Linked DNA regions of Homo sapiens: regions 1, 2, 3, 5, 6 and 7 are each linked to region 4. Evidence: fine-mapped expression QTL. A gene starts in region 4. Each other region holds a variant in brackets. All regions are shown on one strand. Distances are from middle to middle. Region 1 overlaps DRG1 (developmentally regulated GTP binding protein 1). Region 2 has its middle 26 kb from the start of DRG1. Region 3 overlaps DEPDC5 (DEP domain containing 5, GATOR1 subcomplex subunit). Region 4 holds the start of SFI1 (SFI1 centrin binding protein). Region 5 holds the start of DRG1 (developmentally regulated GTP binding protein 1). Region 6 overlaps SFI1 (SFI1 centrin binding protein). Region 7 overlaps SFI1 (SFI1 centrin binding protein).

Evidence for each region. PIP is the estimated chance that this variant, and not a neighbour inherited with it, causes the effect.
Region 1: its variant is fine-mapped to the expression of SFI1 in whole blood (TOPMed, PIP above 0.99).
Region 2: its variant is fine-mapped to the expression of SFI1 in whole blood (TOPMed, PIP above 0.99).
Region 3: its variant is fine-mapped to the expression of SFI1 in hypothalamus (GTEx, PIP above 0.99).
Region 5: its variant is fine-mapped to the expression of SFI1 in whole blood (TOPMed, PIP 0.99).
Region 6: its variant is fine-mapped to the expression of SFI1 in whole blood (TOPMed, PIP above 0.99).
Region 7: its variant is fine-mapped to the expression of SFI1 in whole blood (INTERVAL, PIP above 0.99).

Annotation. Positions count from the first base shown.
Region 1 is chr22:31,414,208-31,418,273 of GRCh38, forward strand. The region is part of intron 4 of DRG1 (developmentally regulated GTP binding protein 1); the gene reads left to right. Among named protein-coding and RNA genes, the nearest start is that of DRG1, 17 kb to the left of the region's middle. The variant G/C (reference allele first, on the strand shown) is at 1,683.
Region 2 is chr22:31,371,724-31,375,789 of GRCh38, forward strand. No RefSeq gene overlaps it. Among named protein-coding and RNA genes, the nearest start is that of DRG1, 26 kb to the right of the region's middle. The variant G/T (reference allele first, on the strand shown) is at 1,602.
Region 3 is chr22:31,802,793-31,806,858 of GRCh38, forward strand. DEPDC5 (DEP domain containing 5, GATOR1 subcomplex subunit) reads left to right here. Exons shown (of 43, transcript NM_001242896.3): 15 at 1-46; 16 at 1,370-1,431; 17 at 2,050-2,123; 18 at 3,330-3,399. Among named protein-coding and RNA genes, the nearest start is that of DEPDC5, 51 kb to the left of the region's middle. The variant C/T (reference allele first, on the strand shown) is at 2,071.
Region 4 is chr22:31,494,930-31,498,995 of GRCh38, forward strand. SFI1 (SFI1 centrin binding protein) reads left to right here and starts at 1,607. Exons shown (of 33, transcript NM_001007467.3): 1 at 1,607-1,708. RefSeq lists silencers at 1,449-1,668, 2,569-2,628 and an enhancer at 1,689-1,958.
Region 5 is chr22:31,397,771-31,401,836 of GRCh38, forward strand. It overlaps DRG1 (developmentally regulated GTP binding protein 1), which reads left to right and starts at 1,834. Exons shown (of 9, transcript NM_004147.4): 1 at 1,834-1,955; 2 at 2,850-2,973. The coding sequence starts at 1,914. RefSeq lists a silencer at 1,494-1,773 and enhancers at 1,861-2,766, 1,894-1,943. The variant GAA/G (reference allele first, on the strand shown) is at 2,289.
Region 6 is chr22:31,583,812-31,587,877 of GRCh38, forward strand. It overlaps SFI1 (SFI1 centrin binding protein), which reads left to right. Exons shown (of 33, transcript NM_001007467.3): 13 at 64-161; 14 at 1,257-1,323. Among named protein-coding and RNA genes, the nearest start is that of MIR7109, 36 kb to the right of the region's middle. The variant C/T (reference allele first, on the strand shown) is at 2,119.
Region 7 is chr22:31,551,417-31,555,482 of GRCh38, forward strand. All of the region lies in intron 6 of SFI1 (SFI1 centrin binding protein), which reads left to right. Among named protein-coding and RNA genes, the nearest start is that of SFI1, 57 kb to the left of the region's middle. The variant AT/A (reference allele first, on the strand shown) is at 2,113.

The sequences.
Region 1 (4,066 bases), 81 kb before region 4:
GGTTTTAAATGTCTGGATCTATATTCTAATGATTATGAAATGTGTGGCAGTAATTTGCCCTCTGATGAAGTGCATACCAGCTGCCAACATATCTCTGCTTGGATGTCTAATTAGGTGTCTCAAAGTTAACGTGTAAGATTACATTCTTGATCTTAGCTGAGGCGGGAGGATCACTTGAGCTCAGGAGTTTGAGACCAGCCTGGGCAACATAGTGATACCTCATCTCTATTAAAAAATGAAAGTAAATTTAAAAATTAAAAAACAAAAAAATTCTTGATCTCCCATCCTCAACTTGCTCTTCCCTTAGTCTTTTCTATCTCAGTAAAGGCAAATTTATCCTTCAGAACTTTTAGGTCAAATCTTTTTTTCCCTTTCATCCCGCACATCTACTGTGTTGTTATATCCAGCTGGTTTTACCTTTGAAATATATCTAGAGGCCAGCCACTCTTTTTTTCCCCCTTTTTCATCCTTAAGTGAAAAACTTATGTGACTGACATGCTGGCTACTATGCTAAGGAGGAAACTCTACCAAAAGGTTGAGTTAATCATGCTTCTCAGTTCATGGCACATTTTCTTTTTTTTTTTTTTTTAGAGATAGGATCTTGCTCTCTTGCCCAGGCTGGAGTACAGTGGCATGATCACAGCTCACTGCAGCCTCAATTTCCTGGGATCAGGTGATCCTTCCTTCTTAGCCTCTTGAGTAGCTAAGGACTACAGGCATGTACCATCATACCCGCTAATTTTTTACTTTTTGAGAGACAGTCTCACTATGTTGTTCAGGGTGGTCTCGAAAACCCCGGGCTCGAGAGTCTCTCTCTTCTCAGCTTCCCGAGTAGCTGGGACTGCTGGCATGTACGACCATGGCAGGCTGATTGATTTTTACTTTTTTAGGGGTAGAATCTCGATATATTGCCTAGGCAGTGATTGTTGTCTTACTGTTTTTCAAGTATTTCTCTTAAATTCTATGTCTAATATGATATCTACTAGTTACATGTGACTAACATTTAATTACAATTGAATAAAATTTAAAATTTAGTTCCTCAATTATGTAAACCACATTTTATGTGTTTATTAGCTACACTTGACTAGTAACTACTGTATTGCACAGTACAGATGCAGAATATTTTCATTATTACAGAAACTTTTATTGGATACCACTGCTCTCGATATTAATTCCTTGTCATCTTTAGACATTATAAATATCTTCTCCCGTTAATTTTGTCCAAGGTGGTATTTGTTGAATAAAAATCCTTAATTTTGTTAGAATCTACACTTTATTTGTAGCTGGGACCACAGGTGTGTGCCACCACGCCTGGCTAATTTTTTTGTATTTTTAGTAGAAACGGGGTTTCACCATGTTGGCCAGGCTTGTCTAGAACTCCTCACCTCAAGTGATCCGCCTGCCTCGGCCTCCCAAAGTGCTGAGATTACAGGTGTGAGCACCTGGCCTACTCTTTATTTTTTCTTATGGTTTGTGCTTTTAAAGTTTTATTTAAGAAGTCCTTATCTTTCCTTAGGTCTTAGATATAGTCTCCTGTTTTTTCTATACTTTTAGGTCCTTTATTTACCTAGAGACTACTCTTATATCTGATATTAGAAGGGTATCCAATTTTAATTTTCTCTGTATAATGGGTCACTTTCCCCAACACCTTCTTTTTTTTTCCCCTTTGATTCGTAGTGACT[G/C]CAAACTCTTCACCTATATTGTCACTTCCTTCATTATGCCTTGTCTCTAACATTATAGCCCCATAACTGGCCTTCTTGCTGCTATCCTACTGCTCTGTAGTATCTTCTCACTACAGCTAGTATGATTGTGTATAAGAAGTCAGATCAGTCCAGGCACGATGGCTCATGACTGTAATCCCAGCACAGAGGCAGGCAGATCACTTGAGGCCAGGAGTTCCAGACTATCCTGGCTAACACGGCAAAACCCGATCTCTACTAAAAATACAAAAATTAGCTACTTGGGAGGCTGAGATGGGAGGATCACTTGAACCTGGGAGGCGGAGGTTGTAGTCAGGTGAGATGACACCACTGCATTCCAGCCTGCGTGACAGAGTGAGACTCTGTCTCAAGAAAGCAAACAAAAAAAAGAAGTCAGATCATGTCATTTGTTGGCTATACCTTCTGATGTTTTCCCATATTATTTGGGATGAGACCCAAAGTCTTAACATAGCTTACAAGCTACGGTAAATGACCTGGCCCCTGGCTGCCTCTCTGACCTCCTTTTCTATCACTTCAGTCACTGGGCTTAAGATATCACTGGCCGTCCGGGTGTGGTGGCTCACAGTCTGTAATTCCAGCACTTTGGGAGGCCAAGGTGGGTGGATCACCTGAGGTCAGGAGTTCAAGACCAGCCTGGCCAACGTGGTGAAACCCCATCTCTACTAAAAATACAAAAATTAGCCAGGCATGGTGGCAGGTACCTGTAATTCCATAGTCTGTAATTCCAGCACTTTGGGAGGCTGAAGCAGGTGCATCACAAGATGAAGAGATCGAGACCATCCTGGCCAACATGGTGAAACCGCGTGTCTATTAAAAATATAAAAATTAGCTGGGCATGGTGGCGTGTGCCTATAGTCCCAGCTACTCAGAAGGCTGAGGCAGGAGAATCGCTTGAATCCAGGCGGCAGAGGTTGTAGTGAGCGGAAATTGCACCATTGCACTCCACCCTGGTGACAGCAAGATTCTGTCTCAAAAAAAAAAAAAAAAATAGCTGGATGTGGTGGTATGCTTCTGTAGTCCCAGCTGTTCGGGAGGCTGAGGTAGGAGGTTCTCTTGAGCCCAGGAGGTCAATCTGCAGTGAGCCATGATCATGCCACTGCACTGCAGCCTGGGCAGCACACAGACACCCTGTCTCAAAAAAAAAAATAATAATAATAATAAGGCCGGGCATGGTGGCTCACACCTGTAATTCCAGCACTTTGGGAGGCCGAGGCGGGTGGATCACCAGGTCAGGAGATCGAGACCAACCTGGCCAAGGTGGTGAAACCCCGTCTCTGCTAAAAATACAAAAATTAGCTGGGTGTGGTGGTGCGCGCCTGTAGTCCCAAGCTGCTCGGGAGGCTGAGGCAGGAGAATCGCTTAAACCTGGGAGGCAGAGGTTGCAGTGAGCCGAGATTGCACCACTGCACTCCAGCCTGGCGACAGAGCAAGACTCTGTGTCAAAAAATAATAATAATAAAAATAAAATCATGGCTGCTTGGTGGCTCATGCCTGTAATTGCAGCACTCTGGGAGGCTGAGGGGGGTGGATCACTTGAGATCAGGAGTTTGAGACCAGTCTGGCTATCATGGTGAAACCCTGTCTGTACTAAAAATACAAAAAGTAGCTGGGCATGGTGATGCATGCCTGTAGTCCCAGCTACTTGGGAGGCTGAGGCAGGAGAATAGCTTGAACCCAGGAGGCGGAGGTTGCAGTGAGCCGAGATCACGCCATTGCACTCCAGCCTGCATGACAGAGCAAGACTCCATCTCAAAAAAATAAAATAAATAAAATAAAATCAGGCTGGGCATGGTGGTACATGCATGTAATCCCAGCACTTTAGGAGGCTGAGGCGAGCGGATCACCTGAGGTTGAAAGTTTGAGACCAGCCTGACTAACATGGAGAAACCCTGTCTCTATTAAAAATGCAAAATTAGCTAGGAGTGGTGGTCCATGCCTGTAATCCCAGCTACTTGGGAGGCTGAGTCAGGAGAATTGCTTGAACCCAGGAGGCAGAGGTTGTGAGCTGAGGTCGCACCAATGCACTCCAGCCTGGGCAACAAGAGTGAAACTCCATCTCAAAAAAAAAAAAAAAGTCTACCACTGAGGCTGGGCATGGTGGCTCACGCCTGTAATCCCAACACTTTGGGAGGCCGAGGTGGGCAGATCATGAGGTCAGGAGTTCAAGACCAGCCTGAACAACATGGTGAAATGCTGTCTCTACTGCATCTCAAAAAAAGAATGAGGGGTCAGGGTCAGGTGCAATGGCTCATACCTGTAATCCCAGCACTTTGGGAGGCTGAGGCAGGAGGATCACTTGAGGCCAGGAGTTCGAGACCAACCTGGGCAACATTGCAAGACCCTGT
Region 2 (4,066 bases), 120 kb before region 4:
ATACCAGCACTTTGGGAGGCCGAGGCGGGTGGATCACCTGAGGTCAGGAGTTCCAGATTACCCTGACCAACATAGTAAAACCCTGTCTCTACTAAAAATACAAAATTAGCGGGGCGTGGTGGTACATGCCAGTAATCTCAGCTACTAAGGAGGCTGAGGCAGGAGAATTACTTGAATCCAGGAGCCGGAGGTTGCAGTGAGCTGAGATTGTGCATTGCCCTCCAGCCTGGGCAACAAGAGCGAAACTGTCTCAAAAAAATAAAATAAAATAAATAAATAAATATAATAAAAATAAAAATAAAAATAAAAACTCAGACTAGACTGGGCACAGTGGCTCACACCTGTAATTCCAGCACTTTGGGAGGCCAAGGCGGGCAGATCACCTGAGGTCAGGAGTTCGAGACCAGCCTGGCCAACACGGCAAAACCCCATCTCTACTAAAAATACAAAAATTAGCCGGGTATGGTAGCGGGCACCTGTAATCCCAGCTACTCAGGAGGCTGAGGCAGGAGAATCACTTGAACCCGGGAGGCAGAGGTTGTAGTGAGCCGAAATCGTGCCATTACACTCCAGCCTGGGCAACAAGAGTGAAACTCCGTCAAAAAAAAAAAAGACTAGAATGGACTAAGGCAAATTTTTTAAAAAACTTGAACATTGGTTTTTGGCATGACCAGGTACATGTTGCTGTTAATACATCTTGTACTAAAGCTAGATAAACAGGACTGCTATCTCACCTAGGTTTTTTTTTCCTTTTACTTCACTCAGAAGCAGAGATCCCAGGGTTTTTCTTTTGGCAGTGCCTATGGCTGGCAGTGTAATTTTTTTTTTTTTTTTTTTGGAGATAGCTCACTCTGTCACCCAGGCTGGAGTGTAGTCGTGCAATCTCTGCTCACTGCAACCTCTGCCTCCCAAGTTCAAACTATTCTTCTGCCTCAGCCTCCCAGCTAGCTGGAATTGCAGGTATGCATCACTATGGCCGGCTAATTTTTGTATTTTTAGTAAAGATGGGATTTCCCTGTGTTGGCCAGGCTGGTCTCGAACTCCTGACCTCTGATGATCCATCTGCCTTGGCCTCCCAAAGTGCTGGGATTACAGGCATGAACCACCACGCCTAGCCTGGCTGTGTCATTTTTGAGACTCAGTGCAAAATGAAAATGCAGGGACCTTTGTACAAAAGGCAGGGGAAAAAAATGTGCTGGTTTTTTGGTTGTTTTTTTTTTTTTTTTTTTTTTTTTTTTTTTGAGATGGAGTCTCGCCCTGTCACCCAGGCTGGAGTGCAGTGCTGCAATCTTCAGGCTGGAGTGCAGTGCCGCGATCTTCACTCACTGCAACCTCTGCGTCCTGGGTTCAAGCAATTTTCCTGCATCAGCCTCCAGAGTAGCTGGGACTACAGGCGCGTGCCACCATGCCTGGCTAATTTTTTTCTATATTTAGTAGAGACAGGGTTTCACCATGCTGGCCAGGCTTGTCTCGAACTCCTGACCTCATGATCCACCCGCTTCGCCCTCCCAAAGTGCTGGGATTACAGGCGTGAGCCACCGTGCCTGGCAAAAAATGTGCTGTTGAAAGTAATAACATAGCCCCCAGGCACGGTGTCTCAC[G/T]CCTGTAATCCCAGCACTTTGGGAGGCCGAGGCAGGTGGCGGATCACGAGGTCAGGAGATTGAGACCATCCTGGCTAATACCGTGAAACCCCATATCTACTAAAAATACAAAAAATTAGCCGGGCATGGTGGCGGGTGCCTGTAGTCCCAGCTACTCGGGAGGCTGAGGAAGAGAATGGTGTGAACCCGGGAGGCGGACTTCACTCTAGCCTGGGGGACAGAGCAAGACTCCCTCTCAAAAAAAAAAAAGGTAATAACATTTAAAGCTTTTTCCTTTCTTTCAAGATCTTTCTGGACTTGTCATGGCTTATTTATTTATTTATTTATTAGACAGAGTCTCACTGTGTTTCCCAGGAGGAATTGGAACTCCTGGGCTCAAGTGATCCTCCTGTCTCAGCCTCCCAAACAGTAGGGATCATTGTGTATTTATTTATTTATATGAGATGGGGTCTCACCCATGGTGTGTTTTCTTGTTGTTTTCCTTTTGAGACAGTCTCGCTTTGTCACCCAGGCTGGAGTGCAGTGGCGCAATCTTGGGTCCACCTCCGAGGTTCAAGCAATTCTTATGTCTCAGCCTCCTGAGTAGTTGGGATTACAGGCGCGTACCACCACGCCTGGCTCAATTTTGTATTTTTTTTTTTTTTGAGATGAGTCTCACTCTGTTGCCCAGGCTGGAGTGCAGTGGCATGATCTCGGCTCACTGCAACCTCCGCTTCCCGGGTTCAAGTGATTCTCCTGCCTCAGCCTCCCGAGTCGCTGGGACTACAGGCACGTGCCACCATGCCTGGCTAATTGTTGTATTTTTAGTAGAGACGGGGTTTTACCTTGTTCGCCAAGCTGGTTTTGAACTCCTGACCTCAGGTGATCTGCCCACCTCAGCCTCCCAAAGTGCCGGGATTATAGGCATGAGCCACTGCGCCCAGCCTAAATTTATTTTTTTAATTTACAAAATTATATATATTTATGGTGTACAACATGATGTTTTGAAATTTGTAGAATATGTGAAATGGCTAAATCAAACTAATTAACATATGTCTTACCTCTCATACTTTTTTTTTCTGTGGTGAGAACACTTAAAAACTACTTTCTCAGCCATTTTCAAGTATATATCTTCTAGTACTTATTTGTGGCCATTTTTTATTTTTATTTCTTTTGAGACAGAGTCTTGCTGTGTCACCAGGCTCGAGTGCAGTGGAGCGATCTTGGCTCACTGCAGCCTCTGCCTCCCAAGTTCAAACAGTTCTCCTCCTTCAGCCTCCTAAGTAGCTTCGACTACAGGTGTGTGCCACCACATCCGGCTAATTTTTGTATTTTTAGTAGAGATGGGGTTTCATCATGTTGGCTAGGATGGTCTCGATCTCCTGACCTCGTTTGTAATTCCAAAGCTTTGGGATTACAGGCATGAGCCATTGCGCCCGGCCTTAATATTGTATCATTTTATGAAAAATGTAAAACTCTCACAACAGTATGATTCCATTTACACCCTCAATATTGTCTTCTGTGCTACGATAGTCTTATATTTTATGAGTGTTGTAAAATCTCACAATACAATATTTTTGTTTTTGCTTTAAACAGTTGTCCTTTAAAGAAATTTTAAAAATATAAAAGACAATTTTAGGCTGGGTGCAGTGAATCATGCTGTAATCCCAGCACTTTGGGAAGCTGAATTTGGAGGATTGCTTGAGGCCAGGAGTTTGAGACCAGCCTCAGCAATAAATCACCTCTAAAAAAAATTTAGAAATTAGCTGGGTGTGGTGGTGCATGCCAGCTACTTAGAAGGCTGAAGTGGGAGGATTGTTTTAGCCCAGGATTTCAAGGCTGCTGTGAACTATGGTTGTGCCACACCAGCCTGGGCCACACAACGAAAGACCCTTCTCTAAAGAAAAAAAGAGGACGTTTTGGCCTTTCTTTTTTCACATAGTTTTTCCACTCCATTATCTCTTCTCTCCTTGTGGACTCCTATTACAGGTGTTATAGTTTGCTAGTGGCCCAGGAGACACTAAGACTCTGTTCATTTTTTCCTTTCTGTTTTTCCAACTTGGATAACTTTTATTGGTCCTTCAAGTTTATTTTAGCTTTACTCTGTACTTTTTAATCTTTTGTTAACTCTCCATGGTGAATTTTTCATTTCTGACATTGTACTTTTCCATGAATCCCATTTTTTATATTTTTCATTTTTCTGTTGAGATGTTACTTCACTATGGCCTTTTTTTTTTTTTTTTTTTTTTTTTGAGAGGGAGTCTCACTCTGTTGCCCCGGCTGGAATGCAGTGGTGTAATCTTGGCTTACTACAACCCCCACCTCCCAGGTTCTCAGCTTCCCAAGTAGCTGGGATTACAAACTCGCACTACCATACCCGACTAATTTTTTATATTTTTGGTAGAGACAGGGTTTCACCATGTTGGCCAGGCTGGTCTTGGAACTCCTGACCTTAAGTGATCTGCCCGCCTCGGCCTCCAAAATTG
Region 3 (4,066 bases), 310 kb after region 4:
GACCGCCTACTCATGATCCTGACCAAGCAGCGGATGATAGATAATGGTAATGCTCTCTGGTTTGTGCCCTGTCTCCACATGTTCCTAGCCTGATTTCCCCTTAGAACTGTGAGCTTCACTGACTTCTTAGAGTGTGAGGAGCTCTACATAGTGTTCTGTGTGTCACAACGTCTGTGGATGTCAATAGGTGTCAGGTGCTAAAATTTCATGGTCAAATCAGTTTGGGAAATGCTGGGTCATGCAAAGATAAGCAGGTTCCATAATGACAGGTCTTCCTCAGTTTTTAATATGTTAGTGTAGGTTGTTTTTCTCTAAAGGTTGTGTCAGGGTACTCTGAGTTCCCCAAACATATTTGGCACTAGAGAAGCCTTCCTGGAGGGATGATTTCAAGGGACCCATGTGCTGTCAGCCGATTTTCTTTCTTTCTTTTTTTTTTTAGACGGAGTCTCGCTCTGTCTCCCAGGCTGGAGTGCAGTGGTGTGATCTTGGCTCACTGCAAGCTCCGCCTCCTGGGTTCACACTATTCTCCTGCCTCAGCCTCCCAAGTAGCTGGGACTACAGGCATCCGCCACCATGCCCGGCTAATTTTTTTTGTATTTTTAGTAGAGGTGGAGCTTCTCCGTGTTAGCCAGGATGGTCTCGATCTCCTGACCTTGTGATCCGCCCGTCTTGGCCTCCCAAAGTTCTAGGATTGCAGGCATGAGCCACCACACCCAGCCGCTGTCAGCCCATTTTCAGATGCACTATCAGGTCATCTAGTCCAGTCCTTCCTCCATGATGTGCCTCGTATCCCCAACTCAGCCCCACACCCCCCAATTTGATTTGTTTCATCAACAAGATGGAGTTGGGACGCTGAGGCAGTAGAATTGCTTGAACCCAGAAGGTGGAGGTTGCAGTGAGCCGTGATCTCACGCCACTGCATGTCAGCCTGGGCAGCAGAGCAAGACTGTCAAAAAAAAAAAGGAGTTTGGAAAGTAAATCCTGATGCCACTAAAGAAGCTCTGTTAAGTGATGTGGATTGTTTTACTTTTTACTGAGATATTACAAAGTTACTGTTCCTTTCTGGCCTTAAAAATTTAAACATGGAAGTTTGGTTGTCTTTTTTTAAACAAGTCATGACCTGTAGGACAGTCAAAGGCTAATTGTCAAGCACCGAATAATGATACGTTAGTAGGGCACTTGGAAAAGAGGAAACAGACAAAATGAATGTATTTACTTCTTTGTTGGATAGGCAGCACTATGAGGTTATAAATCATACAATGGTAAGTTAGCTTTGCCTACTACCCATTTAAATAACATGATTTATAGATAGGGACACTTGTCTCTGCCATTCCCTCCCCACAATTCTTTTTGTCTTTTCTTTTTTTAGGAATTGGTGTGGATTTGGTGTGCATGGGAGAGCAACCGTTACATGCTGTCCCATTGTTCAAGGTAATTAGATTTCGGATTTGTTTACTAAAGGCCAGTTGGAGTATAGTTAGAAAGAGAAAAATTCCAGGCGCTGTGGCATGCACTTATAGTCCCACTTACTCGAGAGGCTGAAGTGGGAAGATCCCTTAAGCCTAGGAGTTTCGGTATAGTTTGCTATGAACATGCCTATGAATAACCACTGCACTCCAGCCTGGGCAGCAAAGCAAGACTCTATCTCTAAAAAAATTATTTTTGAGACGATGTCTTGTTCTTGTCCTCCAGGCTGGAGTGCAATGGTGCGATGTTGGCTCACTGCAACCTCTGCCTCCCGGGTTCAATCAGTTCTCCTGCCTCAGCCTCCCGAGTAGCTATGATTACAGGCGCCTGCCACCATGCCAGGCTAATTTTTGTATTTTTAGTAGAGACGGGGTTTCACCATGTTGGCCAGGCTGGTCTTGAACACCTGATTGCAGGTGGTCCGCCCGCCTTGGCCTCCCAAATTGCTGGGATTACAGGCATGACCCACAGCGCCCAGCCCTAAAAAATTTTTTTTAAAAACCTGAAAAACAGAAAAGTTAGAGCAGTTCCAAAACCTACTTGTTCTGTAGCTTATCTGTGCTCTCATTTTTCTCCTTGCAGCTCCATAATCGGAGTGCTCCC[C/T]GTGATTCTCGTCTGGGCGATGACTATAATATCCCTCACTGGATAAACCACAGGTGGGTGCGATCTCGATCAATAGTAGGTGATAAGCGTTTTGAACAGCTTCCTTGCCATTTTTCTTTAAATCTGTTAAGTTCTTATTATGGCACTAAACCTTTTGTTAAGAAAATGTGGAAACCAAGTTCTAACATTTGCTCAAAGCTCTGTACACACAAAGCAGTAGCAGTATCATAGGAACAGTCTATGGTGAAAAAGAATAAAAACAAAATTTGAAGGACTTACTTCCTCTGCAGTTCCCATGTCCTTCTATTCCCAACTCCCACAGACTGTAGAAGACCAACATTTGTACCTGACCTCCTTCAGCTCTAGAGAAGTCCCCGCGCCTCTTTACATGGAATCCTGCTGATTCCAGCTCAGGGATGGCTTTTCTCATCCCTCTGCCAGTGCCAGTGCCTCATCTTTTTGAACTATGACACTAATCTTATTCCACCTACCCTTCTCCTGAAAATGCCTATTTTCTTCCAAGATCCAACTCCAGCATCTCTCTTTTATGAATTCCTCCTGTGCTGCCCTGATAGCTAACAGCCACTTTTTCTTCAGTGCTTCCAGAGCATTCTATCCTTCTCTGGGTTGTCTTTCTTTCTTTCTTTTTTTTTTTTAAGACGGAGTTTCACTCTGTCACCCAGGCTGGAGTGCAGTGACATGATCTTGGCTCACTGCAACCTCCACCACCCGGGTTCAAGTGATTCTCTTGCCTCAGCCTCCTGCGTAGTTGGGATTACAGGTGCCTGCCGCCACGCCCGGCTAATTTTTGTATTTTTAGTAGAAACGAGATTTCACTGTGTTGGCCAACCTGGTCTTGAATAGCAAGTTCATGGCAAAGCTGCAGCTATTAGTTTATACTATTTGATATCATGATATTAGACTGTTTTTGACCTACAAAAGTAGCAATTTCAGGCCGGTCACAGTGGCTCATGCCTGTAATCCCAGCACTTTGGGATGCTGAGGTGGGAGGAATGCTTGAGGCCAGGAGTTTGAAACCATTTTGGTCAGTGTAGCCAGACTCTGTCTCTACCAAAAAACAAAACATAACTAATGTTTTGTAGTGAATTCTTGTAAAAGAAGTTAAAATTGGGAAGATTAGTGAAGCTGAGAACAAAGCCCATGTCAGGAGGGCTGATCCATGCCTAGTATTTTAACTGTGTTTTGAGTTTTAAAATAAAGGGAATTTAGATTAATGACTCTGTTTGTTTCTTTTACAGTTTCTACACATCCAAAAGCCAGCTCTTTTGTAATAGTTTCACCCCACGAATAAAACTGGCAGGAAAGAAGGTAGGTTTTTATTTTTGTTAAGACGGGGTCTTATTATGTGGTCCAGTCTTATCTTGAGCTCCTGGACTCAATCAGTCCTCCTGTTTCAGCCTCCCAAAGTGTTGGGATTACAGACATGAGCCATTCTGCCCAGCCAAGAAGGTAGATTTCATTAATCAGCAGAGAGCCTTTGTGGACTATCACGCATTGATAGGGTTATTTTAGTCCTGAGGTACCCTCATCTTTCCCAATGGCCATGAACAGGGTTAAGAAATTCATCCCCAAACTTTATAACTTTATACATTAGATAAATAAATAACAAGGCCAAGGCCAGACTGCGTGAAATACCTTTGAGAAAAATATGACCAAGACCAAGAGTTCATTTTTTGTTTGTTTGTTTAAGAGTTCGTTTTATTGTGACCTGACTGTTTTATTCAGATGTTGAAGCCACTCAGATACCAGTGGGGATAAAGACAAAGATGCAGATATGCATTGCAGCAAAGGGGAAATATGATAAAAAGGTCAGATCTTAGTATAAAGAAATGAAAATTCTGGCTGTGTGCAGTGGCTCTTGCCTGTAACCCCAGTGCTTTGGGTGGCTGAGGAAGGAGGATTGTTTGAAGCCAGGAGTTTGAGACCGATCTGGGCAACAAATATAGTGAGACCCCATTTCTGTAAAAACTAAAAA
Region 4 (4,066 bases):
GTGCTTATTGACTTATCCTAAATATATAATTTATATAAATTTACATAATTACATAAAAGTACTTAGGCTAAATTACAGTAAATATATTTTTGTTATACTGTTAATTACAACCTTGAAGCTTACTAAATTATTTTAAAACTACTTGGCCACATTAAGTTCAGATAAAAGTTGTCCCTAAAACATTAGCATTGATGTCCGCTAAAGTAGAACTCCCTTTAAATTATTATTATTATTATTATTGAGACAGTTTTGCTCTTGTTGCCCAGGCAAATGCAAATACACGATCTCGGCCCACTGCAACATTTGCCTCCTGGGTTCAAGCGATTCTCCTGCCTCAGCCTCCCCAGTAGCTGGGATTACAGGTGCCCACTACCACCCCCGGCTAATTTTTTAAATTTTATTTTTAGTAGAGACGAGGTTTCACCATATAAAACATAATTTAGGGCCAGGCGCGGTGGCTCATGCCTGTAATCACAGCACTTTGGGAGGCCGAGGCGGGCGGATCATCTGAGGTCAGGAGTTCGAGACACACCTGGCCAACATGGTAAAAACCGTCTCTATCAAAAAAACAAAAAAAAATTAGCCGGGCGTGGTGGCGTGCGCCTGGGAGGCTGAGGCAGGAGAAACACTTGAACCCGGGAGGTGGAGGTGGAAGTGAGCCCAGATCACGCCACTGCACTGCAGCCTGGGCTACAGAGGGAGACTCCTTCTCAAAAAATAAATAATAAATGTTTTAATTGCAAAAATTAGCATGTAGAAAATAGGGCAAAAATACAAATTGTCTGTGATGCTAAGCCCGAGACACCCAACAAGTTAATTTTCCTGTTTTTAGCGTAAAATCTTTCAAATAAATAACTACTGCTTTTAGTCTCTGCACCAGGAATCTCACGTGCTTTCAAATGTTTTACAAAGCACGTAAAAAAGTATTTGAAAAGTCCCACTTACCCCTCCCACTCCTATTTTTAAGATTATTAGGATCGGCCCAAATTTAAAAATTTAACAAAAAGAGTGCTTATTAATTACATTTTAAAATGAAGGGTTACAAAAAGAGATGAGCCTGGCATTTCTAATTCGGGGGCCTTGGGACCTCTCCCCTCCAAGTGCAAGTTGTAGCAACCTGCCGGGTCCACGCATGGGCGGGTCATACTCCACGGGTTCCGGTTTCCACTCCCTGTGAACCAAAAGCCAGAGAGGCCCACGCACGAGTCCGGAAGTGAGGGAGGGAGGACTTTCGTACGCAGCCGCCTCCCAGCTGGAACCTCATCTTTAGTGCTCGGCCGCGGGCGGCGTAACTCGGGGTTCCGCCTCGGAATACCTCCCACTTCTCTTGTCTAAGAGGAGCAGTAGCAAGCTGAGCTCAGAGCGAAGCTGGCGAGCCAAGGAGATAAAGAACCCTCGGTGGGGATGCCCAGAGGGTGCATGCTCCACGCCCCTCGAAACCGATTCTCATTGCTGCTGCTGCAAAGCAACCCGAAGTGCGCCACCTACCCGACTGAGGCTGCGCAAGCCCCGGGGTCTGGGCGGGGTGGTCCTCGTGCGCGCCGCGTCGCCGTGGAGACGAGGGCGGGCCCGCGCGAGACTGGCGTCTAGAGGCGCGCGAAGCGCTGAGGCGGGCGTGGACCGCGCGGGAGTTAAGAAGCAGGTCCCGGATCGCCGTATACCGCCGGGTTTTCTCCCAACGTCAGGCCCGATGGCTCGGCTTCCCCAGGTACGAGGCCCGGCCCTAACGTCCCCACCCTCTTCTGGGCTCGGCCTTTCCGGCAGTGAGCCCGGCAAGGACCTCAGTCGGGTTCCTCCGAGCCCGGTGAAATCTGTCCGAGCCTCCGCTTCCTCCCCTGAAAGTGCAGGTGATGTTGTCTACCTGCGGGTCTGTGGTGCGGGAATGGAGGAAGTGCGACAAGAGGGCGCAGGACGGGGCCCGGAGCCTGCCATCCTCTCCCGCCGCGTCTTCTCGGCTTCTTGTCTTCCGCCCTGGGGGCACCGCATCCTCCCAGGCGTCTAGTGCGCTCCTGGCCGGTGCTCGAGTCCACGCAATGCCCCTTAGCGTGCGCGGATCCAAATCAGGGGTTTCCTCCTCCCGGCTCCGTGGCCCAGGAGCGGAAGGGCTGGTATATGGGCGACCTTACTCCCACTGAGCCCGCAGGGAGTAACGCAGTAAACAAACCTGGAAGCCTTCCCCGCGTGGGAGGTGGGTACCTGTTTTTATGGGAGGCTGTTCAGGTTTCTTAACTGCTGTGTAGATGTGTTGTAAATATTTGTTGAATGAATGATGTGAGGGACTTGAGTACAGCCATACCTCGCTTTATTGCACTTCACAGATACCGTGTTTTTTACAAATTGAAAGTTTGTAGCAAGCAGCCCTGCACCGAGCAACTATTTTTTCAACAGCATGTGCCCACTTCCTGTCACTTACACTTTGGTAACTATCGCTATATTTCAAACTTTTTATTTCAGGTGCACCGTTACAGTGATCTGTGATCAGTGATCTTTGATGTTGTTATTGCAATTGTTTTAGGTGGCCACGAACCTCACTGGTATAAGACAGCAAACTTAAGTGTTGTGTCTGACTGCTCCACTACCTGCCAGTTCCCTGTTTCTCTCCTCCCTCTCGGTCCTCCTTGTAGCCTGAGAGGCAACAATATTGAAATTAGGCCAATTAATAGCCCCACAGTGGCCCCTAAGTGTTCAGTGAAAGGAAGAGTTCCATGTCTCTCACTTTATATCAAAAGCTAGAAATGACGAAGCTAGAAATGACGAAGCTAGAAATGCCTATGCTCTGTAAATGCAACAACAAACCCAGGATGACCACACATCTCTTTACTGAATGTCTTTACATCATATTTACAGTGTGGTTTACTGAATATTTTAAGCCTACTATCGAGACCTACTGTTCAGAAAAAAGGATTCCTTTCAAGATATTACTGGTCATTAACAAGGCACCTGGTCACCAAGGAACTCTGATGAAGATGTACAAAGAGATTAATGTTACTTTACATGTCTGCTAACACAGTATGCATTCTATAGCCCATGGTTCAAGGAGTAATTTTGACTTTCAAGTCATTATTTAAGAAATACATTTTGTGGGCTGGGCATGGTGGCTCATGCCTGTAATCCCAGCACTTTGGGAGGCCGAGGCGGGTGGATCACGAGGTCAGGAGTTTGAGACCAGCCTGGCCAACATAGTGAAACCCCGTCTCAACTAAAAAATACAAAATATTAGCCGGATGTGGTGGCGGGCACCCATAATCCCAGCTACTGGGGAGGCTGAGGCAGGAGAATCACTTGAACCCGGGAGGCGGAGCTTGCAGTGAGCCAAGATTGCGCCATTGCACTCCAGCCTGGGCGACAGAGTGATGAGACTCCATATCAAAAAAATATATATATATTTTGTGACCCCATAGCTGCCATAGGTAGTGATTCCTCTGATGGATCTGGGCAAAGTAAATTGAAAATGTTCTGGAAAGGATTTCTAGGTGCCATTAAGAACATTCATGATTTGTGGGAAGGGGTTAAAATATCAATTCCAGCCTGGCCAACTTGAAGAAACCCTGTGTCTACTAAAAATACAAAAATTAGCTGGGTGTGGTGGTGGGCGCCTGTAATCCCAGTTACTCAGGAGGCTGAGGCATGAGAATTGCTTGAACCCAGGAGGCAGAGGTTGCAGTGAGCCAAGACTGCACCACTGCACTCCAGCCTGGGCGACAGAGCAAGACTCCGTCTAAAAAAAAAAAAAATCATTAAAAGGAGTTTGAAAAAGTTGAGTCAGGCCGCCATGGATAACTGAGAGACTCAAGACCCGAGTGGAGGAAGTAACTGCAGATATGATAGAAAAATCAAGCAAACTGGAATTAGAAGGGGAGCCTAAAAATGTGACCAATTGCTGCAACCTCATGATAAAACTTGGATGGATGAGGAGTGGCTTCTTTTTTTCTTTTTTTTTTTTTTTGAGATGGAGTTTCACTCTTATTGCCCAGGCTGGAGTGCATGGCACACTCTTGACCTCCTGACCTCATGTGATCCACCTGCTTCGGCCTCCCAAAGTGCTGGGATTACAGACCTGAGCCAC
Region 5 (4,066 bases), 97 kb before region 4:
TACTTGTTATGTGCAGGAACATATCTGATTCACTCTCTACTCTGTCCCCAGTGTTGTCACAGTGCCAGGCAGCAGTTGGAGCTCTGTAAATAACGATTGCATGAACAGGATGGCCACCCAGGACTCGGGAAAATGAGTATTACTCTTTGGTGCCTATTGACAGTTCAGGGCCCCAAGGTGGGTCCCAGGGTGTCTTTGAGCAGTAAGTGTTAACTTATCTGCAGGCCTCATATAATAGATTTGCTAAGGAGCACCTACTCACAGAGCAGTGATGCCCTTGATATTGTCAGCCAATTAATTCCTTAAGTACTTCAAGTTAGGATAGGCCTGCTGATTTGATTTTATCTGTCTTTTAAGATTGATCTTTGATCATGTCCCATTCCAGCTGGACCTCCTCATCTTCCCTCCTCCATTGCTAATAGTGTGGGATCTAATTACCTCATCATCCCTTAATTTATTTATGAAAAAGGCTGAGGTTAAAGAAAAGAAAGAAGAAACTCTCTTTGGCCCTTTGGGGACCTTCTGTAAAAGCTTTCCCTTCTGTTTCTCCCTCTTTATGCACAAGAAAACCTCCCTTTTTTGTCTCTGGGAAGTTAGAATAGTTCTTGTTTACAAATTTAACTAAATTAAACTTCCCTCCCAGGGCTGGGTGGAGGCCAGCCCTGTGGGTTAAGCCTGGCCTGTCGACTGTGGGTTAAGCCTGGCCTGTCGACTCCCGCTGGAATAATCAATCTATCAAAACAACCCATTGATCCTGAGGCAAACCGCTTTCAAAACCACCACATAGTTCCTGGACGTCCTGGCTTCCTCATGACACTTGGGGAAGAGGAGTCTTTTGAAATTTTAAATTTTATTATTACACAAGTAATACATGGATACATTCGTCTTGTAAAAATTTAACTTCAAAATTCTGTGGAATAAAATGTGAAAGGCCTTTTCTTTGCATCCCATCCCACAGTTAAGAGCTTCTGATGTATTTTTCTGTTTAGGCCTTTAAACTGCACGTTCATACACGTACACCTATATAAATGTACATTTAATTTTAAAAATAACATAAATGGTATCACTACGTAGGTGCCCTTCTGCTAGTTGTTTTCCCATTTAACATGTCCTGGGTAGCCAGTCAGACCACAGATCTACGTTTTAACGGCTGTAATCATATTTCAAAAACAGGATAGAGGCATTATTCATTTATCCATTTTCCTACTGATGGGTGTTAATATAGATTTCAATTTTTTGGTATTACAAACTATGTTGCAAGCAGCAGTTCTCTGGGAATTATCCATTCAAGTATGCACTTATTTTGGGCTCCCCATGTGCTCTACTCGGGGTTCGGAGTAAACAAAACCGACCTAAAAATAATTTTGAATGATAGAAAGGGGGCATTTTCTTTATCCAAGGGGGTGAGGCAGGCTGAAGATGGGTCTCTACTCCCTCCAAGACCATGGAGGGCGTCGGGGTGTCACCCCAGCTGTGAAAAAGGGACCCAGGACCCGCAGATGCTGGCGAGGAACAGGGGTGCGGAGCATGAGTCGGCTTTGCACCACGCCCTGGGGTCTCCAGCACTGAAGCGTTCAGTACCATGCAGAGCAGCTGGGAGCGGGTCCCGCTGGGCGGGGCCGAGCTGCGCGCGACCCTCGGCGCGCTCGGGGAGGCCCAGACAGGGGTGGCCTCTCTGGCCTCCGCTCCCGCGGGCTCTATGACACCGCACTGGCTCGCGGGACGGGGCGGGGTCGGGTGAGGGGGAGGAGACAGCCCCACGCTTTGCGACTCGCGGTGACCCCTACGCGGAACTCTCTCGCGGTAATTCGAAGTACCGCGCCTGCGTGCTGCAGTAGCGCCTGGTGGCGGTGGCAGTTTGCCCGCGGGTGTGTGAAGGGAGACAGTGTGGAGGCCACAGGGTACTCGCCACGATGAGCAGCACCTTAGCTAAGATCGCGGAGATAGAAGCAGAGGTAATGGACGCAGCTGGCGGTTCACTCTTAGTCTGAGCATTCCTTCTTTGGTGGCGTCGCTCCTTCCTGTTCTCCTTTGAGCCGCGTCAGGACCGGGCCTAGATTCCGCGACTTCTCTCAGCGAGGCCCGTGTTCCGACTGCCCTCTGCCACGATTAGGAGTCCCCGACTCTCCTCAGTCAGGGCCCCCTTTCCCCTCGTCCCGCGTCTACGCTCTCGGACTCCCCTTTGCCCGGGCCCGCGTTCCGCACCCCTGCACCTTAGGCCCTTAGTCCGTTCCCCCTCCCAGTGTTTGGCTCCTGTTCTGATGTTGTTTCTTTCCGTTTTGCTCTGA[GAA/G]ACACTGAATCCTGTCCCTTATTCCATCTCTGACTTGGTCAGATAGTTCAGGATCTTTCCTCATCATCCTTCGCTGCGTCCCCCTTATTCCCCCTTTTCCCAGTGTCTACCCTAATGACCCCCTGATTCAGAGTATTTGCTCCCGGTAATCGGATCTGGAAGTAAAATGACATCTGTGTGGGAGCAGTTTATTCCGCCTGGATAGTGTGTGATTCCATTGCGTGCGGCCCTGAGAGCGCTTTACAATTAGGAAAGTGGTGTCCCAGTGTTAGATGGATCCAAACAGCTGCAAATAGTAGAAAAGGAACCCGCAGACGGGTTTCAGTCTAGTCTGGGGGCACTAATTGGAATGACCTTAATCGTCTTTCCTCTTTGGGCTTTGCTTTGCTTTGTAGTGAGGGAAATGAGCTGGATGGAGGAGATAATGGACTTTTACTCTTTTAAAGCCTGTAAACTGGGTGTGCTAACATTAGTAGGACTTGGGGAAAAAAATTATCCTCTCAAAGCTGGGGGAAGCGTTCACTGCTTCTAATTTATGGCTGTGATTCCTCCCTTTTAGATGGCTCGGACTCAAAAGAACAAGGCCACAGCACACCACTTAGGGCTGCTTAAGGCTCGTCTTGCTAAGCTTCGTCGAGAACTCATTACTCCAAAGGGTGGTGGTGGTGGAGGTCCAGGAGAAGGTTTGTGTTCTTCTTCAATATATATATTTTTAGGTATAATTTTTGTCAAAATAGTACATACATGTGGTTTAAAAATAACTAAAGATGGCCCAGTGCAGTGGCTCAACGCCTGCAATCCTAGCATGCTGGGAGGCTGAGATAGGAGGATCACTTGAGGCCAGGAGTTCAAGACCAGCCTGATCAACATAGACCCCCATCTCAAAAAAAAAAAAAAGTTTTTTAAAAACAGAAAAATAACTAAAGATGTTCTACTAAAGTAGATTTATATTTTCTAAGCATGAATTCTTGAACTGTGTTTATTTTTATTCTGCCGGTTTCAGAGGCAAATGAATATTGTCTAAGTGTACTGTAGTTTTATTTATATCCTGCACTGATACAAAATAGATTTACATGCGCTGGGTGCAGTGGCTCACCCTTGTAATTCCAGCACTTTGGGAGGCTGAGGCGGGAGGATTGCTTGAGGCCAGGAGTTCGGAACCAGCAAAGCCCTGTCTCTATGGGCTTAGAAATGAGGGGTCCCCATAGGTATGAAAGAAGATGTACCAAAAAAAAAAAAAGGCTGGGTGCGGTGGCTCACGCCTGTAATCCTAGCACTTTGGGAGGCCAAGGCGTGGATCACGAGATCAGGAGTTCAAGACCAGCTTGGCCAGCATGGTGAAACCCCATCTCTACTAAAAATACAAAAATTAGCTGGGCATGGTGGCGCATGCCTGTAATCCCAGCTATTTGAGAGGCTGAGGCAGGAGAATTGCTTGAATCGGGACCCAGGAGGCAGAGGTAGCAGTGAGTGAGATTGTACCACTGCACTCCAGCCTGGGCTACAGAGCTAGACTCTGTCTCAAAAAAAAAAAAAAAAAAAAAAAGTATCCTAGCATGGTGGTGCATGTTTGTGGTCTCAGCTACTTGGGAGGCTGAGTTGGGAGGACTGCTTGAACCCAGGAGGTTGAGGCTGCAGTGAGTTGTGATGGCACCACTGCACTCCATCCTGGGTGATAGAGCGAGATCTCATCTTAAGAAAACCAAAGTAGGGCCAGGCGCGGTGGCTCACTCCTGTAATCCCAGCACTTCGGGAGGCCGAAGTGGGCAGATCACA
Region 6 (4,066 bases), 89 kb after region 4:
TAAGGATTCACTGTTTTACCTTTCATCTCAGTACATTTCCATCTTCTTCCTCCCTTGCTTTAGCTGCTGCACAGGTTCTGGAACCTCTGGCGGTCTCAGATTGAGCAGAAAAAGGAAAGAGAGCTGCTCCCCTTACTGCATGCTGCCTGGGACCACTACAGGTAGGGACTCTGGTTTCATCCCTGGCTCTCAGGGACTTTGTGCCTCTGACTTACTGTTTTCCAGGAGTAATTGCTTGCCCTTCTATGCGTTAGTGTGGCAGATTCAGAAAGGCCTGCTGGGGTGGAGGTCCTGCTGTAAACCATTTGTTCCTGACTTTGGGTTTTTGGCTGATCAGATGGGAGATAGAATGAGCATATTTGCATTGGTTCTTGGCCACCATAGTCTGAAGTATGTGCCTGGTCGCTCACTGCCTTGGTCCTACAGGCATCAATATGTTCACAAGTTAGAATTCATGCATTGCTAGTGTTAAAGAGAAGGGTCAGGGACATTTGTGACTCAGTCTTAAAGTGTGCAGGGAATGTCCTCAATATTTTAGAGCTAGTCATTCAGTTAAATAAATAAAAACACTACATTTCTGTGAGGAAAACTCAGAATGTATAGGGTGGAAAGTATAAAGGGAAAAATAAAAGTTGCCTGGCCCCCTCCCTACAAGTAAGAGTAAGATCTTACTCCTCAGAAGGAAGCACTACGTATAAACTTTCTTGCTGCCAGAAATGTTCAATATGTCCTTCCTTTCTTTGCCCTCCTTTTTTCCTCTCCCCACAGTATAATCAACTTAATTTGCATAGTTTAGCTCCAATTTTGAAGCATTTTTTAATGAGTTAGTGAGAATCCCAATAATAAACTGACTCATTTAGAGTTATCAAGGCATATTATTCCAAACCCTGGTTTACAAAACCTAGTGTGAGAGGCAACATGTCGTGGACCCCCAGCGTTTGGCCATGAAACCAGAAAGTTCAGGATATCTAGGGGATTTCACACATATTTCCTAAATTCCAGAGCTACTGTGCTTTCGGTGGTCTAATTAGGTTTTACAAGAAAGTTGCAACATTTTAGGCAATCCACAGTCCAAAATCAGAGGTTGACAAATTTTATATTAGATATCAGGTTCTTATTGCCGTCTCTCCTAGAATGAAACTAGTAAGCCCATGGGGTGCCTTTAACTCACAGGAAGTAACTGTACCGCAATTTACCTGCCTTAAAACAAAGTTTTAAAAACTTGAAACCTGAAGGTGTTCTTCCTTTTGTTTCAGAATAGCACTGCTGTGCAAATGTATCGAATTGTGGCTACAGTATACTCAGAAGAGGCGGTACAAGCAGGTATGGAGTACTTTTTAGCAGATAGCTCTACTGGCTTACATTCTTGGACCCATTTGCTTTGGAAAGATTCTTGGAAAAGACCTATGCCAAGAAGTCTTATCGTTCTGCTTTGGAAGAGAGGGTGTTGAAAAAGCTCAAAGTCATTTCTTCCAGTTCCCACCTCTAATATCAGAAAGTCTGCATAACTCCCATTTCTTATCTGCTATGAAAATACAAGTTCTCTCTGAAAGTACTGAGCTCTTATCAGCCATTCACATCTTTACTCAAATTCATTTAGTCTCTGAGTTAGCCAGCCCTTCACCCAGTGGGACCTGCAAGAGGTACAGGGAGAGGTGCAGAGCATAAGTGCTGCATCCCAGTGCTAAACAGTGTGAGACACATGTCTCCCGGGGGTGGAGGATGTGAGGTCAGGACCACAAATAAGTAAAGGCAGATTGAGAAAGATAGATTCAATTCCATTTAAGAAATACTTATTGAGCAACTGCTGTTCTTCAGACACTGCACTAAGCACTGAGGATACAACTGTGATATAAAGTCAATAAAATTCCTGCTCTCCCAGGGCTCATACTTTAGCACCAGGGTGACAAATGAGTGTGACCTTACAAGCCCGTTCTACCAATTGGGAGTACCTGTCTGGAATGTTGAAGTGAGAAGGATTTCAAGGCCATATTTACACTCAGTGGGAAAGGGTTCAGTTGATGGCATCTGCCATTGTGAGAAGTGCCCCCTTTTTGGTCATCTCTGGCAGTGAAACAGAGGAAGACACAAACCAAACTCCTCCCAGTTATTTTCGTG[C/T]TGCCCACCCTACCCGTACCTCCATCTTCTGTTGGAGTCTAACAGGTGAATCTTTAGATTCACCTGTTAGCTAGTTCCCTATAGTTTGGGGATAGAATCCAAATTTTTAGCAAGGCCTACAAACTCCTTCGGGAGCTGGTCCCTGTCTGTTTCTCTCCCCTTTCCTGTTACCACTCTGTTCCTTCACAACTGCACTCTGACCAGTTAAGCTGCCAGTGGTTCCCTAAAGGTCCTCTGTGCCCTCCTGCTTCTCTTTGTACCTCCAGTTCTCTATTTCACACTCCCTTCCAGCTCAGATGTCACCTCCTCCCCCAGGCCAGTCCACCTCCACCCCTACCCCAGAGGCATAGCTTTATCAGAACATTCATCTTATAGTTGTTCACTGGCTTCTCTTTCCCCACAGGCTGTGAAGTCCTTTAGAGTACAGCCTGTCCCTTTTGCCTCCTTAGCCCACAGTGCTTGGCATGGGATATGTGCTAATATTTGGATGAATTAATGCACAGACCAACAAATGAACTGCTGTTGATTTCTTCAGAGTTTTTTTCCAAGGATGATCTAAGTCGATAGAGCTTGGATGCTACAGGGCATGGCCTCTTTTTGCGTCACTCTTGCCTCCTACACTTAAGAAATGCTAGAGTCACTGCATTCTTTGACATGCCTTTGGATTATGTTACTGGCTTTGAAAAGACATTGCCACTTGTTATCTTAAGTTCATGTAATACAAGTTCACCAGAATGCAGGAAAGCCTTTCAGAAAAAGACTATGAGTGTCAGAGTTGAAAGGTTGTATTTATTCAAGGTGGAGAGCAGAGGGTCTCTTTTATTTCCTTCCTGGAAAACGAGCACTCCCCTTGACACAGGGGCCCAACACTGGCGGACAGTCCAGGGTCAGCGTTTTCATCTCTCACACTGATCTAGCACGGCCTGCTTTCAAAGGTATAGCGGGTCTGAAAAATGGGAAGAGCACTGCTTAGTCATTCCTAAACCTTTAGCTAACAATCTGAATATCACCTCTTGGTATAGGTATCCCAGGAGCACATCAGATCTTTCTATTCTTAGACAAGATAAAAATATTATTTTTTGTGGGTTTCTTCCTTTTTAAAAAGTAACATACAGTCAGCCCTCTGTATCTGTGGGTTCCACATCCATAGATTCAACCAACCATGGATAAAAAATATTCAGAGGAAAAAAAGAGTAGTTGTGTCTGTACTGAACATATTCAGACCTTTTTTTCTTGTCATTAGCCCCTAAACAATATATAAACAATATAGCATAACAACTATGTACATAGCATTGACATTGTATTGGGTATTATGAGTAATCTAGAGATGCATACAGGAGGACTGTGTAGGTTATATGCAGATGCCAATTTATTTGTTTTGTTTTGTTTTTGAGACAGGTTTCACTTTGTCACCCAGGCTGGAGTACAGTGGCATGATCTTGGCTCACTGCAGCCTCACTCTCCCCAGGCTCAAGCGATTCTCCTGCCTCAGCCTCCCAAGTAGCTGGGACTACAGGTGCAAGCCACCACGCCCAGCTAATGTTTGTGTTTTGTTTTTTTTTTTGTAGAGGTGGGGTGCCACCATGTTACCCAGGCTGGTCTCAAACTCCCAAGCTCTGCCTGCCTCAGCATCCCAAAGTGCTGGGATTACAGGCATGAGCCACTGCACCCGGCCTGCTATACCATTTTATATAAGATACTTGAGTATCCATGGATTTTGGTATCTGAGAGGGGCCCTGGAACCAGTCCCCCACAAATACCAAAGGATGGCTCTTTGCAGAATGGCGAATGTTTGCTAACTGTTGAAGCTTGATGGTAGGGTCATGGGTATTCATTATACTGTCGGCTTCTACTTTTGTTTACATTTGAAAATGCCCATAATAAAAAATAGAAAAGCAATGTGTAGATATTATAGAAAATTTAGGAAGTATAAAAAGATATAAAGAAG
Region 7 (4,066 bases), 56 kb after region 4:
CTGTATTCCCAAAGTATGAGAAGCTCTTACCCAAGCCTCATGATTACTGCACCAAATGCACTGTTTCACTGGTAAGTAACTTACGCTGTTTGTTGTTTATTTTTTTAATACATACAGTAAGATTCATTCTTTTTGAAGTTCAGTTCTAAGACTTTGATACACACTACCACATACAGCTAAATTTTTGTATTTTTGGTAGAGATGGGCTTTTGCCATGTTGCCCAGGCTGGTTTCAAACTCCTGGACTAAAGCAATCCACCTGCCTCGCTCTCCCAAAGTGCTGGCAATACAGGTGTGAGCCACTGTGCCTGGCCTTAAGTTTAATTCTATAAGAAACTGGCAAGGTTTTTTATCATGGCTGTGCCATTTTGCATTCCCACCAGTAATTCACGAGAGTTCTACTTGCTCTGCATCCTCTTGACCTCTTTGTATTGTCATTAAAATTTTTTCTTTGGCCATACTAATAGGTGTATACAGGCATTTAATTGTGGGTTTTTAAAAATTGGTGTTACATGAGTATACTGCATAATGATGGAGATTTGACTGTCCACTACCCAAATAGTGAACGTTGTACATGATAGGTAATTTTTCAACCCTTGGGCCTCTTCCACCCTCCCTTCCCCTCGTTTGGAGTCCCCAGTGTCTATTATCTCCACCTTTATGTCTGTGTGTACCAACAGTTTAGCTCCCGCTTATAAGTGAGAATATGTGGTATTTGATTTTCTGTTTCTGAGTTAGTTCACTTAGGATAATGGCCTCCAGCTCCATCCATGTTGGTGCAAAGGACATGATTTCATTCTTTTTTATGGCTGGGTGGTATTCCATGGTGTGTATTTTCTTTCTTTTTTTTTTATTTGAGACTGTCTCACTCTGTCACCCAGGCTGGAGTGCAGTGGTGTGATCTCGGCTCACTGCAGCCTCCACCTCCTGGGTTCAAGTGTTGCTTCTGCCTCAGCCTCTCAAGTACCTGGGACTACAGGCGTGTGCCACCATGCCCAACTAATTTTTGTATTTTTAGTAGAGACAAGGTTTCACTATATTGGCCAGGCTGGTCTCAAACTCCTGACCTCAGTGATCTGCCTGCCTCGGCCTCCCAAAGTACTGAGATTGCAGGCATGAGCCACCACGCCCGGCTGTGGTGTATATTTTCTGTATCTGTTGATGGATGCTGAGGTTGATTCCATGACTTTGCTGTTGAGAATAGTGCTGCAGTGAACATATGAGAGCAGGTGTCTTTTTAATATAATAATTTCTCTTCGTTTGGGTAGATTCCCGCTAGTGGGATTGCTGGGTCGAATGGTGGTTCTGTTTTTAGTTCTTTGAGAAATCTCCATACTGTTTTCCATAGAGGTTCAACTAATTTATATTCCCACCACCAGTGTGTTAAGTGTTCCCTTTCTCCACGTGCATGCCAACATCTGTTATTAAACTTTTTTTTTTTAAAGACAGGGGATGTCTTGCTGTGTCACCCAGGCTGGAGTGCAGTGGCTTGGTCATAGCTCACTGCAGCCTTGACTTCCTGGGCCAAGTAATCCTCCCACCTCAGACTCCTGAGTAGCTGGGACCGTAGGCATGTGCTACCACACCTGGCTAACTTTTTATATGTTATGGAGACAGGGTCTGGCTATGTTGCCCAAGCTGGTCTTGGACCCCTGGGCTCCAGTGATTCTCCTTCCTCAGCCTCCAAAAGTGCTAGGATTACAAGCATAAGCCACTGCACCCAGCCTAACTTTTTAATAACAGTCGTTCTGACTAGTGTAAGATGATATCTCATTGTGGTTTTAGTTTGCATTTCTCTGATAATTAGTGATGTTGAGTATCTTTTCCTGTGCTTATTTGCTATTTATATCTGTTTGGTGAAGTATCTGTTCATGATCTTTTGTCCTTTTAAATTGGGTTGTTTGTGTTCTTTTTGAGATTTGAAAGTTTTTTGTTTGTTTGGTTGGTTTGGTTTTTTTTGACACGGAATCTCACTCTTGCCCAGGCTGGAGTGCAGTGGCGCAATCTCGGCTCACTGCAACCTCGACCTCCCGGGTTTAAGTGATTCTCCCACCTTAGCCTCCCGAGTAGCTGGGACTACATGGTGCGCTACCATGCCCAGCTAATTTTTGT[AT/A]TTTTTTTTTTTTTTTTTTTTTCAGTAGAGACAGGGTTTCACCATGTTAGCCAGGGTGATCTGGAACTCCTGACCTCAGGGGATCCACCTGCCTCGGCCTCCCAAAGTGCTGGGACCACAGGGGTGAGCCACCAAGCCCAGCTGGTTTTTTAAAATATGTATTCTGTTATAAGCATTTTGTCAAAGCATGATTTGCTATGTTTTCTCCTAGTCTGTGACTTGTCTTTTCATTCTCTTAACAGTATCTTTTGCAGAGGAAAAGTTTTTAATTTTGATGAAGTCCATTCTATTTTTTTTTAATGGATTATGTTTTTTTTTTTTTTTTTTTTTTTTTTTTTTGCGAGAGTCCCACTGTTGCCCAGGTTGGAGTGCAGTGGTGTGAGGATAACCCATTGCAGCCTGGAACTCCTAGGCTCTGACCTCAGCCTCCCAAGTAGCTGGGACTACAGACAATGCCCCACCATACCTGGCTAAGTTTTTTATATTTTACAGAGATGGGGGTCTTGCTTTGTTGCCCAGGCTGGTCTGAAACTCCTGGCCTCAAGCAGTTCTCCCACTTCGGCTTCCCAAAGCCCTGGGATTACAGTCATGAGCCACTGTGCCCAGCTGGATTATATTTTTTCATATCCTATCTTAGATGTCATCTCTAAGAACTTTGCCTTAACCCAGGGTCACAAAGATTTCCTCTTATGTTTTCTCCTAAACATTCTGTAGTTTTACATATGGATCTTGTATATCCTGCATCCTTGCTAAGTTAATTTATTATTTCTTTTTCTTTTTTCTTTTTTTTAAATTTTGAGATGGAGTCTCGCTCTATTGCCCAGGCTGGAGTGCAGTGGCACGATCTCGGCTCACCGCAAGCTCCACCTCCCGGATTCACGCCATTCTCCTACCTCAGCCTCCCAATTAGCTGGGACTACAGGTGCCCACCACCCCGCCCGGCTAATTTTTTGTATTTTTAATAGAGACGGGATTTCACAGTGTTAGCCAGGATGGTCTTGATCTCCTGACCTCGTGATCCGCCCACCTCGGCCTCCCAAAGTGCTGGGATTACAGGCTTGAGCCACTGCGCCCAGCCTTTTTTTTTTTTTTTCAGATGGAGCCTCACTTTGTCACCCAGGATGGAGTGCAGAGTGGCGTGATCTCGGCTCACTGCAGCCTCTGCCTCCTGGGTTCAAGCAATTATCTTGCCTCAGACTACTGAGTAGCTGGGAGTAAAGGTACCTGCCACCACGCCCGGCTAATTTTTTTTTTGTATTTTTAGTAGAGACATTTACTGCTATAAAGTTCTCTTAAACACTAACTATATTACACGAATTTTAATAAGTTATATTTCTGTTTTCATTCAGTAAAAACTTGTTTTCTGATTTTCCCTGAGACCTCATCTTTGCCCCACAGATTATTTAGAAGTGTGTTTAGTTTTCTAATATTTGGGAGTTTCCCAATATCTTTCTGTTAAGGATTTCTAGTTTATTCTATTATTGTCAGAGAACAAGACTTAGTATGATTTCAGTTCCTTTATTTTTGTTAAGGTTTGTTCTGTGGCCCCAAATATGCTCTATCTTGTAAATGTTCTATATTTACTTGAAGAATGTACATTCTGCTGTCTTATTTATAGTTACAGTGAATCTAGCTAGATATTATGGAATAGAAGGAAAAAGTCACTTGGATGACTTTTTTATAGGCGGTGGCTCACGCCTATAATCCCAGCACTTTGGGAGGCTGAGGTGGGAAGATTGCTTGGGCCCAGGAGTTCGAGACCAGCCCAAGCAACATGGCAAAACCTCATCTCTACAAAAAAATACAAAAATTAGCCAGGTGTGGTGGTGCATGCCTGCAGTCCCAGCTACTCAAGAGGCAAGAGTTATTTCTGACATAAGACAAGTTATTTCAGGCCATTCCCCTAGACCTCAGGGAGTGTCCATTCACTCTTGGACTGTTAAATGAAAAGTT